Homo sapiens: one gene and its partners. The protein of the gene in region 3 interacts with the protein of the main gene of each other region in a pairwise test. Each region holds a gene or a part of one and is shown on either strand. Other genes may lie near its edges.

Region 1 (3,913 bases), about 24 Mb from region 3:
CCCATGGCGGGGCCTGTGGGACAGAGGGATTCCTCCGACTGGGTCCAGGGAAAGGCCCTGCCTCAGCCACAGCTGCCCCCTCCCCTGCCACACACAGGGCGGGGTTGCAGGTTCCTTCCCCTCATGACACTCCCCCATAATGGGGCCTCCTCTCCCCTCACAACACCTGCATTCAGGTAGGTTTCTTCTCCTAGCCCCGGGGGTCTCCCGCCTTCCAGGTCTCAGCTCTCCTCCTCACTGACCGTGCAGCACGCCACAGTCTTCATCCTCTCCCCTCCTGCTCACACCTTTCATGGCTCCCCTGCCCACAGACTAAGGCCTTGACTCCTCTCCTTGCCATTTAGGGCTTTCTGAAGTCAGCCCCCACCCTCCTTGGCAGGCTTCTGTCCTGAGAAGGGACCCAAGGTAGGTTCCTTGTGTGTCCCCTTGGCACTGTCTCCCAATTTCTTCCTCAAGGCTTTCTTGGGCCACCCCAGCAGGGAGCTTCTCTCCCTCTTTCCTCTATACAAATAGAAATCCTCTACTGACATTTGGCTTTTCATTAATCCATTCATTCCCTGAGCATTTATTGAGACTGACTGTGTGCTAGGCCCTGTGCCAGTGATGGAGATGAAGCAGACATGAGCCAACCTTCAATAACTTGTAACTGGGTCAAAGAGGCAGATGGTTGGTTACAAAGGGCCTCCAATCCATGCCAAGAAATTGGAGGGAACAGACGCTCCTGGGATTTTTTAAAACAAGGGCTGGGAAGATTGCATTCATTCCACAATATTTACAGAATGCTTATGATATACCCAGTCTTGAACGAGTCACTGGGGACCCAAGAAAAGGTATGTGTTTTAAAATTTTTCCAGGCTGGGCACCGTATTTCATGCCTATAATCCCAGTACCTTGGGAGGCTGAGATGAGAGGACAGCTTGAGGCCAGGAGTTTGAGACCAGCCTAGGCAATACAGTGACACCTAGTCTCTACAAAAAATTTAAAAATTTGGCTGGGCGCGGCCGGGCACGGTGGCTCACACCTGTAATCCCAGCACTTTGGGAGGCCAAGGTGGGTGGATCACGAAGTCAGGTGATCAAGACCATCCTGGCTAACACGGTGAAACCCTGTCTCTACTACAAATACAAAAAAATTAGCTGGGCGTCGTGGCAGGCGCCTGTAGTCCCAGCTACTCGGGAGGCTGAGGCAGGAGAATGGCGTCAACCCAGGAGGGAGAGCATGCAGTGAGCTGAGATCGCGCCACTGCACTCCAACCTGGGTGACACAGTGAGACTCCACCTCAAAAAAAAAAAAAATATATTGGCCGGGCGCAGTGGCTCACGCCTGTAATCCCAGCACTTTGAGAGGCTGAGGCAGGTGGATCACGAGGTCAGGAGATCAAGACCATCCTGGCTAACACAGTGAAACCCCATCTCTACTAAAAATACAAAAAATTAGCCAGGCATGGTGGCGGGCGCCAGTAGTCCCAGCTACTTGGGAGGCTGAGGCAGGAGAATGGCATCAACCCCAGAGGCGGAGCTTGCGGTGAGCCGAGATCGCTCCACTGCACTCCAGCCTGGGCGACAGAGTGAGACTCCGTCTCAAAAAAAAAAAAAAAAAAAAATTCACTGAGTGTGGTGGTGCATGCCTGTAGTCCCAGATACTTGGGAGGCTAAGATGGGAGGATCACTTGAGCCTGGGAGGCAGGGGTTGCAGTGAGCTGAGATGGCACCACTGTACTACAGCCTGGGCGATAAAGAAAGGCCCTGTCTCAAAAAAGAAAAAAAAGAATTTTTCCTTTGGCCACAGCATGCAAGATGACCTTTGGTGGGGGCAGGTAGGTAGAGCAGGGAGGGGCCTGCTACACGGTTCAGGTGAGAGACAATGCTGCCAGAGTAAGGGTCGTGGAGAGACGTGGATGGGCTGAGACGTTAAGAAGGGCACTGGCAGGACTTTGCAGTTGATTGGATGTGGGAGTAAGAGGAACAGAGGAGTTGAGGCAGAGGCTCAGATTTGAGCCTCAGTGGATAGAAGTGTTGTTGCTGAGAAGCAGGTTTGGGAAGGATCAAGAGTTATTCCCCAGTGGGAATGTGAGCCCGTAAGTGGGCTGTGCCAGGGGAAGTGTTTGAAGAGGTACAGGCCCTCCTCAGGAAGTGTGGCCAGACCTTGAAGGCAGAGTGGACCCTCCTCTCTGACCTCCCTGGGAGGAATGTCCCTGCAGAGTCTGGGTTTCCCAGGACATGGCTTGGGAGGTGCCTCTGACCTGCCTAGAGTCTCTTTGGAAGAGGGTCAGGCTCCCACCCCAGGTAGCCTGTCCTCAAGATACTCTGGAAAAGGAAGCCCTTGGGCTGGCAGAAGGAATTCCACTCCCATAGCCCGATGTCTGCCAGTGGGCTTCTAATTCTTACAACTGGGAAAACACTAAATAGCAAATCTGAGGTTGGTCCATTCCTTCCCACTCCCCTTTGCTGGGCTGACCTCAGGCTAGTTACAGATCCTCTCTGGGCCTCAGATTCCTCCACTGGGCCATAAGGAAGACCAAGGAGCAGTGCAGGTAGCAACATCCTTCCCCACTCCCAGAGGATGAGGAATTGTATGCCCTCAGGAAAAGCCAGGGAGGGGGAGCATGCCATCTTCAGGAACCTGAGGCTGGGCGGAAAATGGCTACACTGAGGCCAGAGCAAGGATGCCTCTGGAACACCCATAGGCAAAAGGAGGCAGGCCTCACCCCTCTCCCAAATCCAAAGGACTCTCAAGGCTCAGGGTATAGTCAAGGAAGCTGGAGAAGTCAGGCAGAGATGTCTGATGGGGGGAGGCACAGCCTCTCCAGCTGTCTTCCGTAGGATGTGCCTGAGAGTCAGCATGAGGGGCTGGGTCTGTGTGTGGGAGCATGTCAATGTCTGAGGCTGCAAATCTGTCAGAGTGCACACGTCTCTCTGTGTGTGTCACAGTGTCTGTGTGGCTCTCACCTTATACCCCTTTTCTCCTCCCTGCTCTGTGCTGCCTTCTCCACAATTCTCTGTCTCCTAGGGTCCTTCCTGTTCCCTGCTTTTATTGGGTCTCAGACCCAGACTATGCCTCCTCCTTTATTTCTCCTCATTCCCTCTAGATCATCAGAAGGTCAAAGCTGAGCCTGGGCAAGATAAGGAAACCCTGTTTCTACATAAAATTTAAAAATTAGCCAGACATGGTAGCATGTGCCTGTAGTCCCAGCTGCTCAGAAGCTGAGGTGGGAGGATCACTTGAGCCCAGGAGGTTGAGGCTGCAGTGAGCCGTGATTGAGCCACTGCACTCGAGCCTGGGCAACAGAGCAAGACCCTGTCTCAAAAAAAAAATAAGTAAATAAAAAATTAAGAAAAGAAGGTCAAAACTGGCCGTGCCCTTTAAGATCATCCCCTTATTTCAGTGAAAATGGAAATTGAGAGATAGGAGAAAACTGGCTCAGGGTTACACAGCAGGTCAGTGGGAGGGCCCAGATGAGCACTCAGGCTGAATCCGTGCTACCTGCCTGGGCCACCGTCTCCAAATCATGGCTACTCTTGTTCAGCACAGACCTTCTCCACCCACATCTGCCCTCTGGGAAAATCAGAGCTCTGATCTCCCTTTTGGCCGCAGTGGAACCATCTGGGGCCACAATCTCTGACACCCAGGAGATAGCCACCCTAGGGGTGTCCACCAGCACCTCTGAGACAGCAAGTCTACAGCCAGACTCGCTCCCAACCAGAGATGGTCAGACTGTCTCTGTTGCCCCTTCCTTCTCTCCCTCATCCCCGGGGTGTGGGGAACACAATCTTAGTTACCTTCATTTTTTCCCTTCCCTTTGCCCTAGGTCTAACTTGCCATCAAGTCCTGTTGTCTCTTATTTTGAAATGCTCTTGGTACCTTCATTATGTCCATAGCCAGGGACACAGCCGAGGGGGCTGAAATCAAGCTA
Region 2 (3,913 bases), on a different chromosome or scaffold from region 3:
CCTTCCACACTGCCTGGGCCCCATGACCTAGTTTCCCCACTTGTGCAGGGGGGCGCTGGGGGCCCAGGGGGAGTCTGGCTCTGTGGATTCTGCAGCCCAGAGGGCGGCCTCCTGTAACTGGAGAACGGGCAAGGAGGAGCTTCCAGACAGCGCTGCAGGCCCCAGGGGACACAGGGCAGGAGTCACACAGCAGGTCTGAGCAAGCTGCTGTGCCACGGTCCTGGGCTGTGTGGGGAGTGGACAGAGGCCCTTCTGAGCTGCCCCCGAGAGCCAGCCCCACCCCGGTCAGCACCCACACAGCCCCAGGTCAGGCAGGACACAAACCCGGCCCACCACAAAGCTCCCTCTGAAACCACGTCCCTGAAAAGTCCTGTACCCAGAATATGCCCAGAACTCCCACAACTCCACCATGAAGAGGAAAGAGCCAATTAAACAAGGGGCCCTTGAACATTTCTCCAGAGAAGAGCCACACACGGCCAATGAGCTCATGCCAGGACGCTGGGCACCGGGGAAACGTGAACCGCAACTGAGCGAGACACGGAGCCGCCTCGCGCCGACGGCCACTGAGAGCAACCACCATGAGCTGCTGGGTCGAGGGGAATCAGACCCTCCGCGTCGCTGGCGGGAGCGTGTGTGGTGCGGCCACTGCAAACAGCCGGCAGCTCCTCAAAGAGCTGGACGCAGAGTCCATGGGCCCAGCACCCGCCCGGGCGCGCAGCCAGGGGGTCTGAGCGCAGTCCACGCACAGACCTCGGCACGGGTGTCCACGGCAACACGATCCCATCACCAACAGATGGAACGCGGAACCAGCCCTCAACCGCCGGAGGGAGACACAAAACCGGGTTTACCCGTCAACACCGCTTCGTACAGCCGAACTCTGATACACGCTGCCACGCGGGCAAACCCCGAAAACACGCCCAGCCAGTCACAGAGACCTGTCGACACAACTCCGTGCCCAGGGGATGTCCTGGAGGGGCACGTCAGGGCTCAGGGCCAGTGGAAATGTGCCACGGTTAGACTGGTCGCGGCTGCGCACTGAATGTGCCGGGAGGAACGGAACGGTAGACTAATGGAGCGCTAGACGTGAGGGTGAGCTGCATGTGTGTGCATCGGAGCTCAGGAAACCGTTTTGGAAAGCGCTCCCTCCGCCCGGCAGCCCTCTGGGAACCCTCCCCAGGAGCCACAGGGCGGCCTGGCTCCATCCAGCTTGGTCCTGGCAGCTCCCCTGTCCACCGGAGCATGCCTGGGCTGGGCCCCGCCCTGATGGTGTCGCCCCTCCCCTCACCACCTTTGGAGCACGTGCTGCCCCAGAGGCCCTGCGACCTGACCTGTTCCTGCACCTCCTGTTTCTCAGGAGCCGTCCCCGTGCCCTCCCCCTGCCCTCCCCCTGTTTCTGCTGCCTTAGTACATTTGGCCTTGTCATAGTTCAACACAAACCATTTTTAAACAAAAACAAGAGAAACCACTCTGACCTTTCGCTGAGAAAATCCTTTCACTTCTGCCTTCTGCTCTTGATTCTGAATTTCTCCCCCTAAATGTCAGAGGGGCTGATTCTCCTGCAGCTGCCGGGCAGGGGTGGGGAGGCAGTGTGGGAAGAAGTCTCCTCAGCCGGCCCTTCGCCCTCCTCCCAACCCAGGGCTGGCAACCTGGCTGGGCCTGACGCACTGTGGTGCAGACTCTGGCCAGGCTGGACCAGAGAATAGCTGTTTTCCAGGCACCCGCCTTCCCCGGCCCTCAGAGGCTGGCAGGCTTTGGGAGCCTGGCCGTTCATTTCTAAAAATATTTTTTTTTAGAGACGAGTCTCACTCTGTCACCCAGGCTGGAGTGCAGTGGCATGATAACGGGTCACTCAGCCTCGAGCTCCCGGACTCAAGTGATCCACCTCAGCCTCCTGAGCAGTTGGAATGACAGGCATGTGCCAGCACACCTGGCTAATTTTTAAATTTTTTTGAGAGATAGATAGACTTTAGCTATTTTGCCCAGGCTGGTCTCAAACTCCTGGCCTGGCTGGTCTCAAACTCCTGGCCTGACGTGATCCTCCTGCCTCAGCTGCCCACGACGTGAGGATTACAGGCGTGAGCTCTGATCATTCTTTATTTGAAACAGGTGCACCCCGCCAGCGTCAGCAAGACAGCTGCTCCCAATGGTAGGCCGGGCAACCCACTCACGGCTCCTACAGCACCTCCTCTCTGCCGGCCTCAGGCGGCTCTGGAAGAATGATGCCCTAATATACCGCGCTGCCCTCCAGGTGGGGGTGGGGGTGGACGGAGACAGGCAGGAGTAACCAGTGCTACTCTCCCAGCTCAAACCCCACACGAAGGCAGACCCAGCGTTTGCAAAACACCAGCCCCCGGTGAACAAGTCGACCTGCTGTGCAGCCCACCTCTGACTCCGTTTCCCCCAGCGTACCCAGCCACATTGGGAGGCTCCACCTCGGTCTAACGCTCCGGCATTAGCAGGACCTGCTGAATGAGTGGCGCCGGGCCCATCCATCTCTGCCATCGCTGCTCAGCCCTCTGCCATGTTCAAATATCACACAGTCCCCAGGTACCTCGTAAATCACTGTAATTACGGGCTGCTCACTTAAAATTAAACTGCAATTTTTTAAAAAGCAAATTGCCAGTAAGACACGTTGGCTGTGGCTGGAAATACTTCTGAGGCTGCCTGCGCGCAGGCTCTGGCTTCCTCTCCCTCTGCCTGGCCGGCCCGAGCTGCCACCTGTCTAGTCTGCGCACATAGCGGCCCTGTGGCTGGCGGGCGCCCTGGGGGAGACTGAGACACTCACTCTTAATGAAGACACTCGCGGCGTCCATTGTGGCCACTGCACTCTAGTCCAGACCCTCGCTGGCCTGGCCTGGGGCTCACCTGCCCCTCTGGAAGCAGAGAGGGCCTGCCCTGGAGGGCCGGGGACCTCTGCAGCATGTCCGTGGAACACGTGGGCCAGGGATTGTGTGCCCGGCCCCCATTCCAGCTCTGCCACGTGAGCAGTGCTCACTCGGTGCCTAGGGCTGACTAGTCTTACTAAGCGCTGGTCCCACCATCCCCTGAGCCGAGCCCCATGGTGTCCCAGCGGGCACGGACAAGAGGCACGGAGTGAGGGAGGGGTGGGGGCTGACAAAGGGCTTGGAGAGCAGAGACAGCGCACACCACCAACTCTCTCCACACACCACTTTCTCCACACACCACCAACCGCAGGATGTGGTGGGGCTCGGAGGCCAAGGGGGAAGTGTGAGGGATTCCTGTCAAGAACAAGACCCCCTGCTGCTGAGGGTCCAAGAGAAACTCCATGAACTGGGAAACTCGAGGGGAGGAAGCTAGAGATGGAATGAAGGAAGCCCTGAATCCTGGCTCAAACAAGGAAAGCTGAAATAATGCAGTAAAATGAGAAGACACGCAGGAAATGGAAACGATGCTACTTCGAGATACTGGGAAGTTATGTGAATGCTGTTCATCTGTGGGGTGGCGTGAAGAGGTGGAGGCCACACCAGTGGACATCAAAACCAGAAACCAGTCAGAGAAAGACAACAGGAAAACTGTAAGTGCCTGGAAATTAAACAGCACACTTCTAAGTAATCCACGAGTCAAATGGGATGCCTCGAAGGAAATAAAAAAGAGAACAGAATGGAAACAAGAATACAGCATAATGAAATTTGCCAGACGCACCCAAGGCAGTGCTTAGAGGGAAACGGACAGCACTCAATGCCTGTATCAGGAAAGGAGAAAGATCTCAAATCGCTTCTCTAAATTCCTACTTCAAGAAACGAAGGGAAAAACAAGCCCGAAGCAGGAGGAGGAAATAATACAAGTAGGAATGAACAGGAAAACAAAAGTTATTAAAACCAAAAACTGCTTCTTTAAAAAATAGCAATAAGGCCGGCCAGGAGCAGGGCTCACACCTGTAATCTTTGCACTT
Region 3 (3,913 bases):
GTGGGAGTGCGGCCCGAGGGCAGATCTGGGTTCAAGGGGTCCGCACCCTGGGGCATGGGGCAGTTCTTGTGGGCACTTGTGAACAGGTCTGGAAATAAGAGCAAGAGGAGGAACTCAGCAAAGCCCAGCCCTCTCTTGCTTACAAAGCATGTTCAAGGCCCCCCCGTAAGGTGAGTATGGCCTTGTTTTTATCCAACAACATCGTAGAGAAAGCAGACTCAAGTCCACAGCAGGGAAGGGGTCCAGCCAGATGCCCTCCTGCCTGTGCCCCTCAGCGGGAATTACTGGCCTCATCTTCTTTTTACTCCCTTTTCTCAGTTTCTAGCACCCACACTCCAGCATGATTTTGGCCTCGTGGAGATCTTTAATCCATTTACCCTCATATTTCCAGACTAGATCCTCCCGTCCTCTTTTGCTCCTGGCCCGGCTGACACCCTGGCATGGCCTCTGAGCTCTCTCTCACAGACGCCCTTACCTCTCACCCCGGTTTGGGTCTGACCCTCCTGCCCTGTGCCTGGATCTGAGGAGCTGAATGTTGCTGGAGAAAGTGACCGCTGCATGCGAGATTGTAGCCCCAGCCTCCCGTGGGACGCTGCCCGGATCCTTCTCTGTTTCTGCATTTCCTGCTGTCTTTGTTTCCTGCCAGGTTGACAGCTTCACCCCATCCTTCCTTCTCAGACATGAAACACACCCCCTCCCCTACCCCACACACTGCTGGGGGCTTCTGCCCCTCCCTCACTGGGTCCAGGATCCTTGGAAAGGTGTCACCTGGATCTTTCCACCCAAATCACCAGAGCCTGCCTGCACCTTTGCCCACATCATCGCCTTTCCCTCCTGCAACAAAGGAAGAGCTGTTCCTGCTGCACCCAAGACCTTCTGGCCCATCCACCCAGGGCTGGGTCCTGCCCCTGCCCTCCCCCCAGAGGCTCTGCTCTCCCTCCTGCGGTGTCACTGTGCCCTCTCCACTCTGTCCACTTTGAAGCATTCAGCCGGGATCTCATATGCTGCGATGTGTCTTGGGCTCTGGACCTTCTCCTGCATTCTCACTCCTCTGTCCCCTTTACCACTGGGTGGGGCCGTCAGCATCCTGGCAACCCAAGCATCTCCTGTCTTCTCAGAAGCTTGTGACCACTGTTTCCTTCCAGCGACTTGGCCGTTCCTCTGCTCCCTTCTCGCTGGACGTGCAGAGAGCTGTGTCCCACATCTACTTCCTCGTCCTCCACTTCTCCTCCACCCATTCCAAGCAGGCTTTCATGAGGCAGCCCTTGCCAAGCTGCCAGGAAAATCCGTGGGGCCAACTCCAATGGGGGCTGCTCCAGCCTCTTCTTGGAGCTGGAGCTGTGCAGCCTTCCTGCCCTCTTGAGCCTCGCTCTTATCCTGGCCTCTGGCCTCTCTGGCTGCTGTCCTGGGTCCCCTCTTTGGCTCCTCCCTGGCTCACCCCTGCCCGTTGGCTGGCACACTTCTGTCCTGGCCCTTCTCCACCCTCTCTCCCCAGGAGGTCTCACCTTCCTGTTTCCGCTGCCCGCTGCCCATGTGCACACCTCCAGCCCTGACTCCTCACTTGAGCTCCCAACTGAGTTTCCAGCTCTCCACATGGATGCCCAAGGGGCACCCCAAGCACACCTGGGCAAAAGAGGATTCCCAATTCCAGGTCCACCTTCCCCCCATCCCCCACTGCACCAACTACAACCCTGGGAGTTTCTCAGGGTCCTGCCTTCCCCCACTCTCCCCGGGGCCACGCAGTCAACCGGCAAATCCTGTTAGCCCTCTCTTAGGTCTATTCCAGGTCTCCCGGCTCCCTTCTCCCAGGGCTCCCCTGCTGCAGGCATCCTCCCTCCCTGGAAGACAATGGTCCCTGCGCTCACTCTCTGCCCGCCAGCGGAGGGACTTAATGCTCTAGGCCAGATTGTGTCACTGGGGTTAGGGGACCATGTGGGTGCTGCCCCCAATTCCCCTGGATTCCTTTCTCCTGTTTTTGCCCTGGCGCCCTGCATGGCTTCTAAGAGGCACCACCTGTGGCTCTTTCTACAGGGGCTGCCCTAGGTAAATTTCTGTTGGCCCCACCCAGAGTGGCCCCAAGCCAATGACTACCAGGTGCAGAACCCCAGCTCTTTTGTCTGGGATCCGAAAATTCCCCTTCACTTACCCTCCGGAGTACCCTGCAGGACCAGGCTGAGGCCAGGCCTGAGACCACCCCACTGCCTGGCTGGCCTCCTCCATCCTCCTCTCGCTCCATTCCCTACTGGCTTCCTCTGGAAGGTTCACCTCATATCAGTTGTACCCAAATCCTCATTTCAGGGGCAGCTGGCAGGGGGAAGGTAAGCATTCAGTTGGAGGTGAGATTAAGGTTTTCTTTTCTTTTTTTTTTGGAGACAGAATCTCGCTCTGTCACCCAGGCTGGAGTACAGTGGCGTGATCTCGACTCACTCTAACCTCCGCCTCCCAGATTCAAGCGATTCTCCTGCCTCAGCCTCCTGAGTAGCTGGGATTATGGGCACCTGCTCATTTTTATATTTCCAGTAGAGACAGGGTTTCACCATGTTGGCCAGGCTGGTCTCAAACACCTGACCTCAGGCGATCCGCCTGCCTCGGCCTTCCAAAGTGCTGGGATTACAGGCATGAGCCACCACGCCCAGCCTGAGATTCAAGTTTTCATCCCAACTGGATTAGACTTAGTTTGCAGAAGAGACCGTAGGTTTCTGGGATCCACCCAAAGGTAAGCAGGTGGGCTAGTCAAGGAGGCTGGAGGCAGAGACTGGAGCCAAGGAAAGATCTTATTGACCACCCCACCCATGACCCAGGCAGGCCTAAGGAGGTGAGAGCACCTGGGGCAGCACGGGATCCTGTGGACTGAGCCGTGCGCCTGCACACCATAGCACTCAGCTCATCTTGTTCTTTTTCCTGAGTCCCTGCTGTGTGACCCTGAGCTAGTCCTGCCCCTCTCTGGGCTCCAAGGCCTCCATTTCCACAAAGGCCATGTTGTCCAGGCCCTTCAAAGGCAATGTTCAAACTGGGGGTGCATATTTCAGTGGGTCATGCAGCCGTTTATTAATTAGGTCTTATTTTAATGAAATAGAATGGAATAGAATGGAAAATATCAGAGCCCACTGCAAGTCAGGTTAAGTATTACTTTATGAAGCTTCTGTTTATGCAAACACAAGTCTGTGCAGATGTGTGTGCACAACACACACAGAGTAAAAATTTTCTCTGTGTGTATTCTGGGTCATGATGCAAAATATATTATTCCTATGGGTCCAGTCAAAAAAGTTTGCAAGTTGCCAATCCTGAGGTTCTGGAAATTCTGCATGTCCTGTACAAGCCAGGGCCCGCCAAGGTGCAGACAGGTGGCTCTGGCCATAGGCTGACCCTAGGAACTTGAGAGGTGTTAGGGTATTTCTAGGACCCCTGGCCATCCCCTGAAGCTTTTTTACAACTCTCCAGCCACAGACCAGGGAGCGAGGTTGATGGGGAGGGGAGCCGGGCACAGAGGAGGCTGGTGGTGATGCCAAAGCCTGGCAGAGGCATGACTTGAACAAGGTCATTTGTTGAGACGGTGGTGGGCTTGGAGGACTCCTGGCTCCCACCCCCTCCCCAGCCCGCCTGGCTCCCCACCTCAGTTGGGGTTCAGGTGCCTCCACCAAAGCTGCCTGCTCCCCCTGAGGACTTTGGCCCCATGATGTCACAGGCTGGTTGCCATGGGGACGTCAGGTAATGAACCAGCCCAGGGTGAAATCACAGGCTGTTCTTCGCCCAGCTGGGACTGGTGGTCACGTCACCACTGGCAACTGGAAAAACACAGAGTGTCATGTGGGGTGGGGGCTGGGAGGCAGCCCGAAGGGACCGCTAGCACCTGCTCCTGTGGCTCCCTCTCCCAGAAGGACACCCCCTTTCTTTCAGTCCACACCCTAGTCTC
Region 4 (3,913 bases), on a different chromosome or scaffold from region 3:
GTGCGTTGCGATATTGTGTGCTACCAGTTTAGGTGATCCGGGAGAAGTGATCTGTTAGGGAATAAATGCTTTTTCTCAAAGGGGACTGCTGAAGACCAGAAACTAACAATAATGTTAAGTTTTAGGTTGAAGTAACATTTACGTAAGTCCATGGCATCATAAATTTAGAGAATTTGTGGGTTTATGTTTCTCATTTATTAAAAACAGACCAGGTCAAGGCCAGGCGAGAATGGCTCATGCCTATAATCCCAGCACTTTGGGAGGCCGAGGAGGGCGGATCACGAGGTCAGCAGATTGAGACCATCCTGGCTAAGACAGTGAAACCCTGTCTCTACTAAAAATACAAAAAAAAAAATTAGCCAGGCATGGTGGTGGGCGCCTGTAGTCCCAGCTACTCAGGAAGCTGAGGCAGGAGAATGGCGTGAACCCAGGAGGCGGAGCTGGCAGTGAGCCGAGATCGCGCCACTGCACTCCAGCCTGGGCGACAGAGCAAGACTCCGTCTCAAAAACAAACAAACAAAAAAAATCCCAGCACTTTGGGAGGCTGAGGCAGGAGGATGGTTTGAGCCCAGGAGTTTCAGACCAGCCTGGTAATATAGGGAGACCCCACCTCTACAGAAATAGAAAAATATTAGCCAGGTATGGTGGTACATGCCTGTGGTCTCAGCTACTTGGAAGACTGAGGTGGGAGGGACTGCTGGGGCATGGGAGGTGAAGGCTGCAGTGAGCTGTTAGATCGCGTACTCCATCCTGGGCAACAGAGAGACTCCATCTCAAAAAAAACAAACTGCCAGGTGCGGTGGCTCATGCCTATAATCCCAGCACTTTGGGAGGCCAAGGCAGGTGGATTGCATGATGTCAGGAGTTGGACACCAGCCTGGCCAACATGGAGAAACCCCGTCTCTACTAGAAATACAAAAAATTGGCTGGTAGCGGTGGTTCACACCTATAATCCCAGAACTTTGGGAGGCTGAGACAGGAGGATCACGAGGTCAGGAGATCGAGACTATCCTGGCAAACACAGTGAAACCCTGTCTCTACTAAAAATACAAAAAATTAGCCAGGCATCATGGTGGGTGCCTGTAGTCCCAGCTACTTGGGAGGCTGAGGTAGGAGAATGGCATGAACCTGGGAGGCGGAGCTTGCAGTGAGCTGAGATGGCGCCACTGCACTCCAGCCTGGGCGACGGAGCAAGACTCTGTCAAAAAAAAAAAAAAAAAAAAAAAAAAAAAAAAAAAAACAACACACACACACACACAAAATTAGCTGGGCAGAGTGGCGGGCACCTGTAATCCCAGCTACTCAGGAGGCTGAGGCAGGAGAATCACTTGAACCCCGGAGGCGGAGGCTCCAGCGAGCCGAGATTGTGCCATCGCACTCTAGCCTGGACAACAAGAGCAAAACTCCATCTTAAAAAAAAAAAAAAAACCAACCAAACCATCCAACCAACCAGAAAAAAATCATTTCCTAAACTGGGCTGCCATAAACTAATCTAACTTGGCTCAAAGTCTCCGTAATGGAAACACCAGAGTAAGGCAAAGAGACCCCTCCCAAGTCCCTGCTCAGATGAACCTGGAAGTAAGTATCCCTGTTAAATGACGAAAATTAATCTCAGTTCCAAGGAAAACTCCAGGGGTTTCTATTACCTCTTGGCCCTAACACTTTACATCAAGGCTGCAGCAGACTGAGTTAGAGCTATTAATATTTTAAGCAAAGTCCAAAGAATCAACAGGCAGGCCGGGTGCGGTGGCTCACACCTGTAATCCCAGCACTTTGGGAGGCCAAGGCAGGCGGATCACTTGAGGTCACGAGTTCGAGACCAGCCTGGCCAACATAGTGAAACCTTGCCTCTACTAAAAATACAAAAATTAGCCGGGCATGGTGGTACATGCCCGTAGTCCCAGCTACTCGGGAAGCTAAGCCAGGAGAATTGCTTGAACCTGGGTGGTGGGTGCACTCGCCACTGCACTCCAGCCTGGACAACAGAGCAACACTCCATCTCAAAAACCAACCAACCAACCAACCAACCCAGAAAAACCAGAGAGGGTGTGAAGTACTAACTTTTCCTGAGCTGAAATAGGTCCCATACCCTTTTCCAGTCGAAAAAGCAGTTGCCACTGATTATGAGACAGACAGCTGTTTTAAAGTGGTAACAAGTGAAAAGAAAAAAAAAGGATGACTTATCAAAACCCAATTCATATATAAAACCCTCCAGATATGGCTTGGATATACTGTTGCATCAGAGTATCAAATGGGACTTCATACATCTGATGACACTCGGAAATGAGGCCTTTCAGGAATAAGCCACTAAGTTTAACTTAGCTACTGCAAAGGTGGTCTACCAAGGGTAAATTGCCAAGCGGCTCCGATTACTCACTGTGCATTTTAAAAGTAATTTCACGAGTGTTTGTCAGAGCTAATTTCTTACCTCTAGAGCAGATATATCTAGGTTAGAAGTTGATTTCCTAAAATGTCTTCTTTCAAACCAGAATTCAATGTCCTTTCAAGACTGTATACACAAGCCAGTTAAGTGACTGCCTAAAGCAAAGATCTAAAATCTTTTGTTAAGTAATAATTATACTGTTTACCTGCTAACCAGTCATGGGGTATGAGCTCTGCTCATCCTATAGCAGGGTACCCAGTTAAGAATTTTTATTTGCCTATAATATTTAGATTAAGCCTCTATACAATGTAGGGAAGTCATGTCAATTGCTTAAGCCGAGACAGTAATGTTTGATTTCTTGAATATGGTTATGTCCTTTCCAGACAATTAGGTCATACGACCATTTCTTGACTCACATGATGCTCCCTTCCCCTCCTGCCTGTGTGAACTACCATGTTTTTGCCAAAGAGAAAGCGGTTACCCATTTACAGGGTCAATGAAATCAAAGATAAAAGCATCAAAAGTACAATTCAAAAGTACAATTCTATCAGTTATGCTGTTTTGAGTGAAAACACACACACACACACTCTCTCTCTCTCTTCTTCTGGGTTTAAAAACAATAGCCTTCTCCTACCCTAAAAGGTCATTCTGAAACCAGAGAACCTATTCAGTGCCATTCCTCATTTTGACCCTTCGATAGCACCATTTCACTTTTTTTTTTTTTTGAGGTGAAGTCTTCCTCTGTCGCCCAGGCTAGAGTACAATGGTGCCATCTTAGCTCACTGTAACCTCCATCTCCCAGGTTCAAGTAATTCTCCTGCCTCAGCCTCCCCAGTAGCTGGGATTACAGGTGTGCGCCACCACGCCCAGCTAATTTTTCTATTTTTTTTTTTTTGAGACCGAGTCTTGCTATGTCTCCCAGGCTGGAGTGCAGTGGAGCGATCTCAGCTCACTGCAAGCTCCGCCTCTCGGGTTCATGACATTCTCCTGCCTCAGCCTCCCGAGTAGCTGGGACGACAGGCACCCACCACCATGCCCGGCTAATTTTTTGTATTTTTCAGCAGAGCCGGGGTTTCACCGTGTTAGCCAGGATGGTCTCGATCTCCTGACCTTGTGATCCCCCTGCCTCGGCCTCCCAAAGTGCTGGGATTACAGGCGTGAGCCACTGCGCCCCCCCGGTATTTTTGCATTTTTAGTAGAGACGGGGTTTCACCCATGTTGGCCAGGCTGGTTTCAAACTCCTGACCTTATATGATCCGCCCGCCTCGGCCTCCCAAAGAGCTAGAATTACAGGCATGAGAAACCGCGCCCAGCCAATTTCACTGTTAAATGCAGAATATTTCTGTGGTATGTTCTAGCACATCAGTTACTAACAGTGAACATCTGAGAGTATATGAAAGCAACCACTAATAAGGAACTAAACCACAGATTATTTTAAGTGTACACAGTTGCTTTCTTTCCCTCCAACATAAGACTGACGCATTAAGGACACCATGGCCTTACCTTGTAGGTGCAGTGGCTGCTGGCTGC

Evidence for each region. The genes of interacting proteins can lie anywhere in the genome.
Region 1: the proteins of FAM131C (region 3) and HPCAL4 interact in binary tests that used the Homo sapiens proteins (3 or more experiments, as listed by UniProt).
Region 2: the proteins of FAM131C (region 3) and MAD1L1 interact in a two-hybrid assay, tested with the Homo sapiens proteins (one large-scale study listed by BioGRID and IntAct).
Region 4: the proteins of FAM131C (region 3) and EWSR1 interact in a two-hybrid assay, tested with the Homo sapiens proteins (one large-scale study listed by BioGRID and IntAct).

What each region holds. Positions count from the first base shown.
Region 1 is NC_000001.11:39,684,599-39,688,511, forward strand, and holds part of HPCAL4 (hippocalcin-like protein 4), read right to left. Parts: intron 14-3,913; 5' UTR 6-13; coding exon 1-5. UniProt on the Homo sapiens protein: May be involved in the calcium-dependent regulation of rhodopsin phosphorylation.
Region 2 is NC_000007.14:1,816,611-1,820,523, forward strand, and holds part of MAD1L1 (mitotic spindle assembly checkpoint protein MAD1), read right to left. Parts: intron 1-3,913. UniProt on the Homo sapiens protein: Component of the spindle-assembly checkpoint that prevents the onset of anaphase until all chromosomes are properly aligned at the metaphase plate.
Region 3 is NC_000001.11:16,063,549-16,067,461, forward strand, and holds part of FAM131C (protein FAM131C), read right to left. Parts: intron 89-3,913; coding exon 1-88.
Region 4 is NC_000022.11:29,278,190-29,282,102, reverse strand, and holds part of EWSR1 (RNA-binding protein EWS), read right to left. Parts: coding exon 3,887-3,913; intron 1-3,886. UniProt on the Homo sapiens protein: Binds to ssRNA containing the consensus sequence 5'-AGGUAA-3'. Might normally function as a transcriptional repressor. EWS-fusion-proteins (EFPS) may play a role in the tumorigenic process.